Regions from separate parts of the Homo sapiens genome. Here region 1 is linked to region 2. A link means that fine-mapping ties the variant in region 2 to the expression of a gene that starts in the linked region. Tissue or cell type: lung. Region 2 holds a variant in brackets; the other region holds the start of a gene. All regions are shown on one strand. Distances are from middle to middle.

The links. PIP is the estimated chance that this variant, and not a neighbour inherited with it, causes the effect.
Region 1: PWWP3A starts here. The variant in region 2 is fine-mapped to the expression of PWWP3A in lung (TOPMed, PIP 0.91).

Annotation. Positions count from the first base shown.
Region 1 is chr19:1,352,955-1,357,144 of GRCh38, reverse strand. PWWP3A (PWWP domain containing 3A, DNA repair factor) reads right to left here and starts at 2,186. Exons shown (of 14, transcript NM_001369789.1): 1 at 2,010-2,186; 2 at 696-821; 3 at 51-136. The coding sequence starts at 752. RefSeq lists silencers at 1,978-2,047, 2,108-2,397, 2,282-2,442, 2,428-2,527 and an enhancer at 1,500-2,385.
Region 2 is chr19:1,446,348-1,450,347 of GRCh38, reverse strand. It overlaps APC2 (APC regulator of Wnt signaling pathway 2), which reads right to left and starts at 227. Exons shown (of 15, transcript NM_005883.3): 1 at 10-227. RefSeq lists silencers at 181-380, 3,124-3,418. The variant T/A (reference allele first, on the strand shown) is at 1,551.

The DNA of each region.
Region 1 (4,190 bases), 93 kb after region 2:
TCAGAAATCTACACGGGAAAAAACAGTATTAAAACAACACAACACTTAACTTTTCCTCTAGAGAGAGGATTTGCACAGCTAGAAAATATTCCTTTCTTCTCTTATTTTTTGTTGAAGTCGCGGTTCGGGCCAAAACCTACATTTAAAACAAAAGAAAATCCTTGTTATTACAACAGCTGACAGTGAGAAACAGTGGCAAACTTTAGCACAAATGCAGCAGGTAATCCTGAAGGCCTATAACCATGGGATTTCAGATATTTGGTCCAATCCCCATTGTTTCACAGATGGGGAAACTGAGGCATGAGAGGCCAGTGGCAGACAAAGACAAGGACCTGGGCTTTTGCATTGCAGCTGAGCACTGTCTACTGAATTGCTGGAAAGCATTCCCTGAACACGACCATAATTTACTATCACAGGGCTGCTTGCCAGATCTTTCCTTGAGTTACAGCCTTACATGCCTTTTTACAGCTGATTCTTTTTTTTTTTTTAGTGTGAAAAAAAAAAGACATTTCTGGAAGTGTAACCTTGGAAGCACTAGACCAAAACCCCATTAAATGGGGAACGAGAATCAGTGCCAACCGTGTTCTGGCTCAATTATTTCACTGAAGCAAATCCTAGGTATCTCCTGATCAAGATTTTACTTGTCACCCGAAAGTCATTTCTAAGTCCTGAAGTTACAGAATAATGGCTGTCACCTTCGCAGGCCATAATCGCTTTTCCCATCGGCAGAGGACATACTTGGCATCCGCCATCATTTACACTCATGTGGCAAGTGGCAATGATTTGGCACAACGTACTCCCAGGTCTCACGCCAATGTGTCCTGGAACGAAATTTGCACGGTGGTTTATACAACTGTTTGCTGGCGATGTTAACGCAGACACAGCCCTCAGGGGCAAAGGTTAGCTCGACTTAGCCTCAAGTAGATGGTTTAATTCCACAATCTTGCATTGAGATGCTCAATGCCAAAAAGCAGACTGACAAACAGAAACGACGGGGCTCGGTATCCAGGGAGGCGCCTGCATTTTTTCATAAATAAAATACAGCACAGTCCCTCCCAAAGGTTCTATCTAGATCAGTTTTAAAAGGCTCCTGAATAAATCATCTCCGTGCGGAAGACCTGCCTCCGACCTCGGCAGGAGAGGCATTTTACACAATCAAAGCTCACAACCCTCCCCAATTTGGGGAGTTAACAGTTGACCACAGCACACACACAAAAATAAGAGCGGAAAAACGACTGCTCTTTTGGCTGCCATGTCCCTGAAAGAACGGGGACAGCTGCAGACCGTTCACAGCATCAATGGGAAGGACTGGCTTGGCTGTTGACAGAAATGAAAAGGAGGTTTGGGGGTGGGGGTGGAATTTAGCAACAACGGAGGGGGGCGTCCCCGCAGCAGGGAAGAGGAGGTTCCCAGCAGAGGTAGGGGTGGCGTTTCCAGCAAGAGAGGGGATCACAGCAGCAGCAGAAGTAGGGGTCCAGGCAGCAGGGACAAGATTTCATGGCGGAGGAAGGGTTGCGGCTTGCAGGAACGGGGGATTCAGGCAACAGAGAAGGGGGTCACAGCAGAAGCGGGGGGGCTCAGGGAGCAAGAACGAGGGCTCACGGAGGAGGTGGAGCGGAGGGTCCAGGTGGCAGGGATGGGGGATTTCACGGTTGGGGGTGGGGAATCCAGGGAAGCAGATGGGGGTCCAGGCAAGAGATGGGGTTCACGGCAGACGTGAGGGGGATCCAGGGAAGGAGATAGGGGTCCAGGCAGCAAGGATGGGGGAGCGGGTCCAAGCAAGAGATGGGGTCCGGGCGGCAGGGACGGGAAAAGGAGTCCAGGCAAAGTGAGGGGCCCACGGCGCCAGGGGCGGAAAAGGGGGTCCGGGCAGAGTGGGGGACCCACGGCGGTAGGGACCGGGCGCTCCCGGAGGAGTCTCTAGGCCGGGGCCCCCCCTCCCCCCAGGCCCGGCCTCCTCGCCTCAGCCCCGCCCGGCGGAACCGAGGGGACGCATCCCGCGGGCTCACCGGGCCCCCGGCTTTCCCCAGCGCGGCGCCCCAAGCCCGGGCAAGGAGGCCGCAGCGGCCGCAACAGCGGAGGACCCGCCCGCCAACCGCTGCCGTCCGCGCCGCCCGCGCTCACCGCCTCCGCCACCGCCGCCGCCGCCGCCGCCGCCGCTCCCCGCGGGGCCGGGGGCGGGGCTTGCCTCGCGGCGGCGCCAAGCTCCGCCCCCTTCCGCCCGCTGCCCAATGGGACGCGCGCGCTCCCAAGGAGCGCCGGCCTCGCCCTCTCCGGCGTCCACGGCCGCGCGCCGGCCCCGCCCCTTCCGCCGCGCGTCTACCCCTTTTTCCCGGGAGTGCTGCCTGAGGAGACCGGTTGGCGGGGCATGTGTGGCCGCTCCCGGGCGCCGCCCTCCCGCGCTCCCGGCCCTTTGTCCTGCAGTCAGACCCCGGACACCGCCCTCGCGGGTCTCGGTGGGAAAACAGGCTCCCCCGCCCGCGGCGATCCCTGAGAGAACCTTCCAGAACTTTCGAGAATCTTCCAGGTCCTACGGCACCTCCCAGCCCGGGAGCTGCGCGCCACGGACCCAATTCCAGCAGATCCCAACCGATCCCAAAGCCAGGCATCCCCGCAAAGGCGTCATAAGCTTCTGAACTAGAGCAGGACCCACCTTGGGAGGGTCCCAAGACCCCGGGGGGCACCGGAAACAGCCGCGGGTGGCGGGAGCCCCGGAGCGGTCGCTCCATCAGTGTCAGGCCTTTCCCTGAGCGGTTTTTGATTTTTTTTCAGACGGAGTCTCGCTCTGTCACCCAGGCTGGAGTGCAGTGGCGCGAGCTCAGCTCACTGCAGCCTCCTCCTGCTGGGATTACAGGTGCGCGCCACCCCACCCGGCTAATTTTTGTATTTTTAGTAGAGAATACTAAATGTTGATCAGGCTGCTCTCAAGCTCCTGACCTCAGGTGATCGGCCTGCCTCGGCCTCCCAAAGTATTGGGATTACAGGCCTGAGCCACCTCGCCAGCCCCCACAGTTCTTTAAAAGCAAAGGAGGCCGAATTGGCAGATCCTTTAAGCCCAAGGATTGGAGACCAGCCTGGGCAACATGGCGAGACCCCATCTCTATAAAAAAGATACAGGCTCACTCCTGTAATCCCAGCAGGAGGCCGAGGCGGGCAGATCACATGAGGTCAGGAGATCGAGACCAGCATTGCCAACATGGTGAAACCCCGTCTTTACTACAAATAGAAAAATTAGCCGGGCGTGGTGGCGATGCCTGTAATCCCAACTATTCAGGAGGCTGAGGCAGGAGAATCGCTTGAACCCGGGAGGCGGAACTTGCAGTAAGGGGAGATCGCGCCACTGCACTCCAGCCTGGGCAACAGAGTGGGACTTCGTCTCAAAAAAGGAAAAAATTAAAAGACTTACAGCAGCATTCGTCACGCACTGGCCCCGACTCTTCAAGGGGAAGGGGCGACAGCAAAGCCGGCTCTAACTTCTTTTTCCTTCTCACATTTGCGGGAATAGAAGGTTTGTGTCTTCGGTCGATCCCAGCAACCTCAGCGACTGATTTTTTTTCCTTTATCAAGTTGAGAATGTTCACCTTTCACTTGTTTTTTATTTTTATTTACATTTTTGAGTCGAAGTTTGGCTCTGTGGCCCAGGCTGGAGTGCAGCGGCCCAGTCATAGCTCACTGCAGCCTCAACCTCCCAGGCTCAAATGATCCTTCCACCTTAGCCTCCGGAGTAGCTGGGACCACAGTGCGCACCACCATGGCTGGCTAAGATTTTTATTTTTTGTAGAGAGAGGGTCTTGCTATGCTGGCCAGGCTGGTTTCGACCTTTTGGGCTCAAGTGATCCTCCCACCTCGGCTCCCCAAAGTGCTGGGATCACAGGTAGGATCCACCTTGCTCAGCCGTCTCAGTTTGTCTATAAAATGGGGGTGGTGGTCTGTGGGTGGTTGGCAAGAACTATGTCTCTGATATCCTCTCACGTTAAATCTGAGCTGGCGGTGGCTCAGGCCTGTAATCCCAGCACTTTGGGAGGTCAAGGCAGACATATCGCCTGAGGTCAGGAGTTCGAGACCAGCCTGGCCAATATAGAGAAACCCCCATCGCTACTAAAAATACAAAAATTGGCTGAGCGTGGTAGTGTGCACCTGTAATCCCAGCTATTTGGGAGGCTGAGGCAAGAAAATCTCTTGAACCCAGG
Region 2 (4,000 bases):
GACACACACCCGCTTACGTGCAGCTGGGCTGGCGGGGCGCCTGGGTCTGGGGCCTCCTCCCTCTGCGCGGCTCCGCGGGCCCCACCGGAAATCCCGGCCCGGGGTGGCCTCGGAGCGCGCGGGCTCCGGGGTCTCCGCGGCGCGGGCAGGGGCTCCGGGGCGGACAAAGCCCGGTCCGGGCCTGGGCAGGCGGCGCTGCCGCTCCTAGCGCTGGGCGAGACCACCGCGAGCGGGGGAGGATGCGGGATGAGGGATGCGGGTGAGACAGCCAATGAGGGCGCGGGAAGACGGGCTGGTGCCATGGCAACAGCCAATGGCGGCCCGGGGCGGGGACCGGCGTCGGCCGCGGGGCGTCGGGCCTCCGCGCGGGCTCAGGGGCCGTGAGTGCGGGGGGCGAAACCCCCCCGAGGGAAGGGGGTGCCCCGAGGACCAAGATTCCTGTGTCCCGCACTTTATTGCAGGGTGCAACGGCCTCTTAAAACCTCCTGCGTCTGGATTTGCAGAATTGGAGAGTAAAACATCAAATCCTGGATGTTACATCAGCATCTTGGCGGGGGAGGGGTTTCCAGGGCAGTGGCCGGGCTGGGGCCAGGCCTGCACCCACCCCACAGGTCCAGCCTGGCCTGGTGCAGGTGCGTCAGGGTGGGACAGGGTTCGGGTCCAGGCTGGAGCTCCCTGAGGGTCCTGCCTGGTGGGGAGGGGAGAGGGGAGGAGGGGCAGGGCCACTGGGGAGCACCTGGGACGCTGCATCTCCCCACATTTCTCCCTGTCTCCCCAACGGAGCGTCAGATCCTCCTGTAACTCCGTTGCTCTTCATGTCCCTCTCTCTTTCTGTCTCCCCCTCTGTTCTCTGTCTCTCAATCTCTGTCTCCATGTGTCTCTGCCCCTGGTGGGTGGCACACTTAATTCACCCTCACGGACCGAAGGCCAGAGGAGGGAAGGGCCAGGGGTCCCAGGAGTCGCCATCTCCAGGTGTCCTGGATGCTCCATGAGTCCCTGGAAGCCATTTGAAGGTTTAACACACAGAGCCCGTCCCTGCAGCTCGGAGCAGCCCTTCCTGCTCTGGACACAGACTCACAGCACAGAAAGGGAGGCGACTGGGGCCAGAAGAGTGATTTTTTTCCGTGCTGGGCAGGCAGGGCAAATCATTCGCCGCTCAACCCTCGGTTTCCTCCTCTGTAAAATGGAGAGGAGGCGGAAGATTCTGCAAGGGCTGGTGCAGGGAATGATAGGAGAGGGTGGGAAGGTCCGAGTATTCAAGGCCCCGTAGACAAAGGCAAGGGAGGACCCGTGCTGTTTCCTGTTGGGCCTTGAGCTGAAGACCCGAGGGCCTTGTCCCGGGCCAGCACTGCCAGGGGCTGAGAGCCCTTCGGCCTGGCTGTCTGGGAGCCCCCAGAGCTGGACGCAGCTGTCCCCACTGGTTGGGTCTGGGGAGGCAATGCAGTGGGCAGACACAGGGGATCTTTTCTTTTTTCTTTTTCTTTTTTTTCTTTTTTTTTTTTTTGAGACGGAGTCTTGCTCTGTAGCCCAGGCTGGAGTGCAGTGGCACG[T/A]TCTCGGCTCACTGCAAGCTCCGCCTCCCAGGTTCACGCCATTCTCCTGCCTCAGCCTCCCGAGTAGCTGGGACTACAGGCGCCCGCCACCACGCCCAGGCTAATTTTTTGTATTTTTTAGTAGAGACGGGATTTCACGTTAGCCAGGATGGTCTCGATCTCCTGACCTCGTGATCCACCCGCCTCGGCCTCCCAAAGTGCTGGGATTACAGGCGTGAACCACCACGCCCGGCCTTTTTTTTTTTTTTTTTTTAGATGGGGTCTTGCTCTGTCCCCCAGGCTGCAGTGCAGTGGCGCCATCTCGGCTCACCGCAACCTCCGCCTCCTGGGTTCAAGTGATTCTCCTGCCTCAGACTCCTCAGTAACTGGGATTACAGGCATGTACCACCTTGCCAGCTAATTTTTGTATTTTTAATAGAGAGGGGGTTTCACCGTGTTGGTCGGGCTGGTCTCAAACTCCTGACCTCATGATCCGCCCGCCTCGAAGGGGATTTTTTTCTGGAGGCTGGAAGGCTGCCCTGAGAAGTGAACAGCAGTGATCAGGAGGAGAGGCGTTCCAGGCTGAGGGAAGATCAATGCATGCTTGGGACACAGGGGGTGTCTGGTGGAGCCATGGGGTAGGGCGCGTGGTGGGGTTTGACAGGTCAAGCCGGGGCAGAGCTGGGCGAGGCTGAAATGGGGTTGGGGATGCAGAGCCCAGGGCCCTGGCTTCAGCTCAGCCTTGTTGTCCCTGTGTCCCCCTGGGCATGTCTCTCTCTGGCCTCGGTTTCCAGTCTTGTTTACTGAAGGGTGGGTTGGATGATCCCTGCCTCCCCCAAAGAGGAACTAAGTCCCACCTCCCTGTGTAGTTTCAGATGTCTCAGCTCCCCAGGCCCCCATCAGGCAGGGGTTTGGGGGATCCAAGGTCAGTCCTGTCCTTGTATACATGGGGAAACTGAGGCCTGGGCCAGGGAACGTGTTGCCTGAGTTCACCTGTGCCAGCCAGGCCTCCGGAGTGACACTGAACCTCCCTTCTTATCCCTCTGGGGGTGGCCAGGGCCTGGAGGGCTGAGGGTACATGGGGGCTGAGACCCCAAGACAAGATGCCCTTGGCCCCAAATCTACAAAACATTATGTCCCTGAACAATCCCCCCCCACACACTAAAATCCTCGACCCTGTAAATCCTTGAACCACAGCCACACTCAGACATCACCAGACATTTCAGAGCCTCAAGAACCCCCCACAGCCCCCTAGGACTTCAGGAGACTGAGAGAGGTCTCCCCCTTCTCCCACTGCAGAACGCAGGGCCTAGCCCAAGACCCCGACCTAGGCTCCTCCCTGGGGTCCTCCACGCCCCCTACTGCTGCTGGGCTAAAGGGGAAGTTCCATGAAATGCTCACTCCCCCACCCCTGTCCTGTGACACCTCCCCGCAAGTCCGCAGCCTGGCACACGGCTCACTCTTGGAGTGTCTTTGAGCCTTCTGAGTCTGACCTCGAGCTGTCCCCGCCCCCTTGATGCCTCCTCTGTGCCAGGGGCTAGAGGCAGAAACAGGGGCGGCCCCCATCGGGAGCTGGGTGGGGACAGAGAAGGCACCAGGTCATCGCGGGAGGATAGAGACGGCCCGCCGCCGGCTGGGTGGCCGGGCAGAGCCCTGACCGGTGAGGAGGCCACCGGAGGTGGGGGAGGGTGGGGTAGGCCGGTCCAGGCCGCGCCCTGAAGCCTGACCGCCGCTATGGGCCTCAGTTTCCCCGGCGGCGAGTCGGCAGACGTGCGCCTCCGTCAGCACCGCGGACAGCTCCCCGGCCCCCGCCCCGCGTTCTCTTGCGGGCGCCTTAGCTCCGCAACGAGGCTCCGGCCTCGAAGCGTGACCTTGGGCTCCCCGCTGCACCCCCCAGCCTCAGTTTCCCCTCCAATGAGGGATGTCACAGCCGCGAAATTCAGACGATTCCGGAGGCTGGAGAAGCGCTGGGGTCGGGAGCGGACGGATACGAACAGCAGCGGCGGCGAACGTCAAAGCAGGCCATACGCTCGCGCCCAGAAGGGGAAACTGAGGCCCAAAGAAGCGCAGGGCGTGGCCCAGGCCCCCACCCTGCGCAGGGCCGAGCCTCCGCAGGATGCCCCCGCAGCCGCCCCCGCCGCCCCAGCTGGCGCAGCCTCCGCGTCGGCGCAGTGAGGAGGGGTCCGAGGGTCTCCTGCAGAGGCCGAGGGCTGGGCTGGGCGAGCCCTGCGCTTGCGCAGACCCGGGGCTGGGGGTCGCAGCGGCGCACGAGAGGGGCTTCCATCCCCGCCAGCCTTCCGAGGCGGTTTCCCGGCAACGGTCTCTACGGCGACGGCACTAGACCCCCGACTCTGCAGCCTCCGCGCGCTCGCCCCATGCGCCCCCCGCCGCCGCGCCCGCTGTTCCCGCGGTGTGGACCCCGCCCCGTTCCTGCGCGGCCCGGAGCCCTCCCCAACGGCTCGACCCACGCG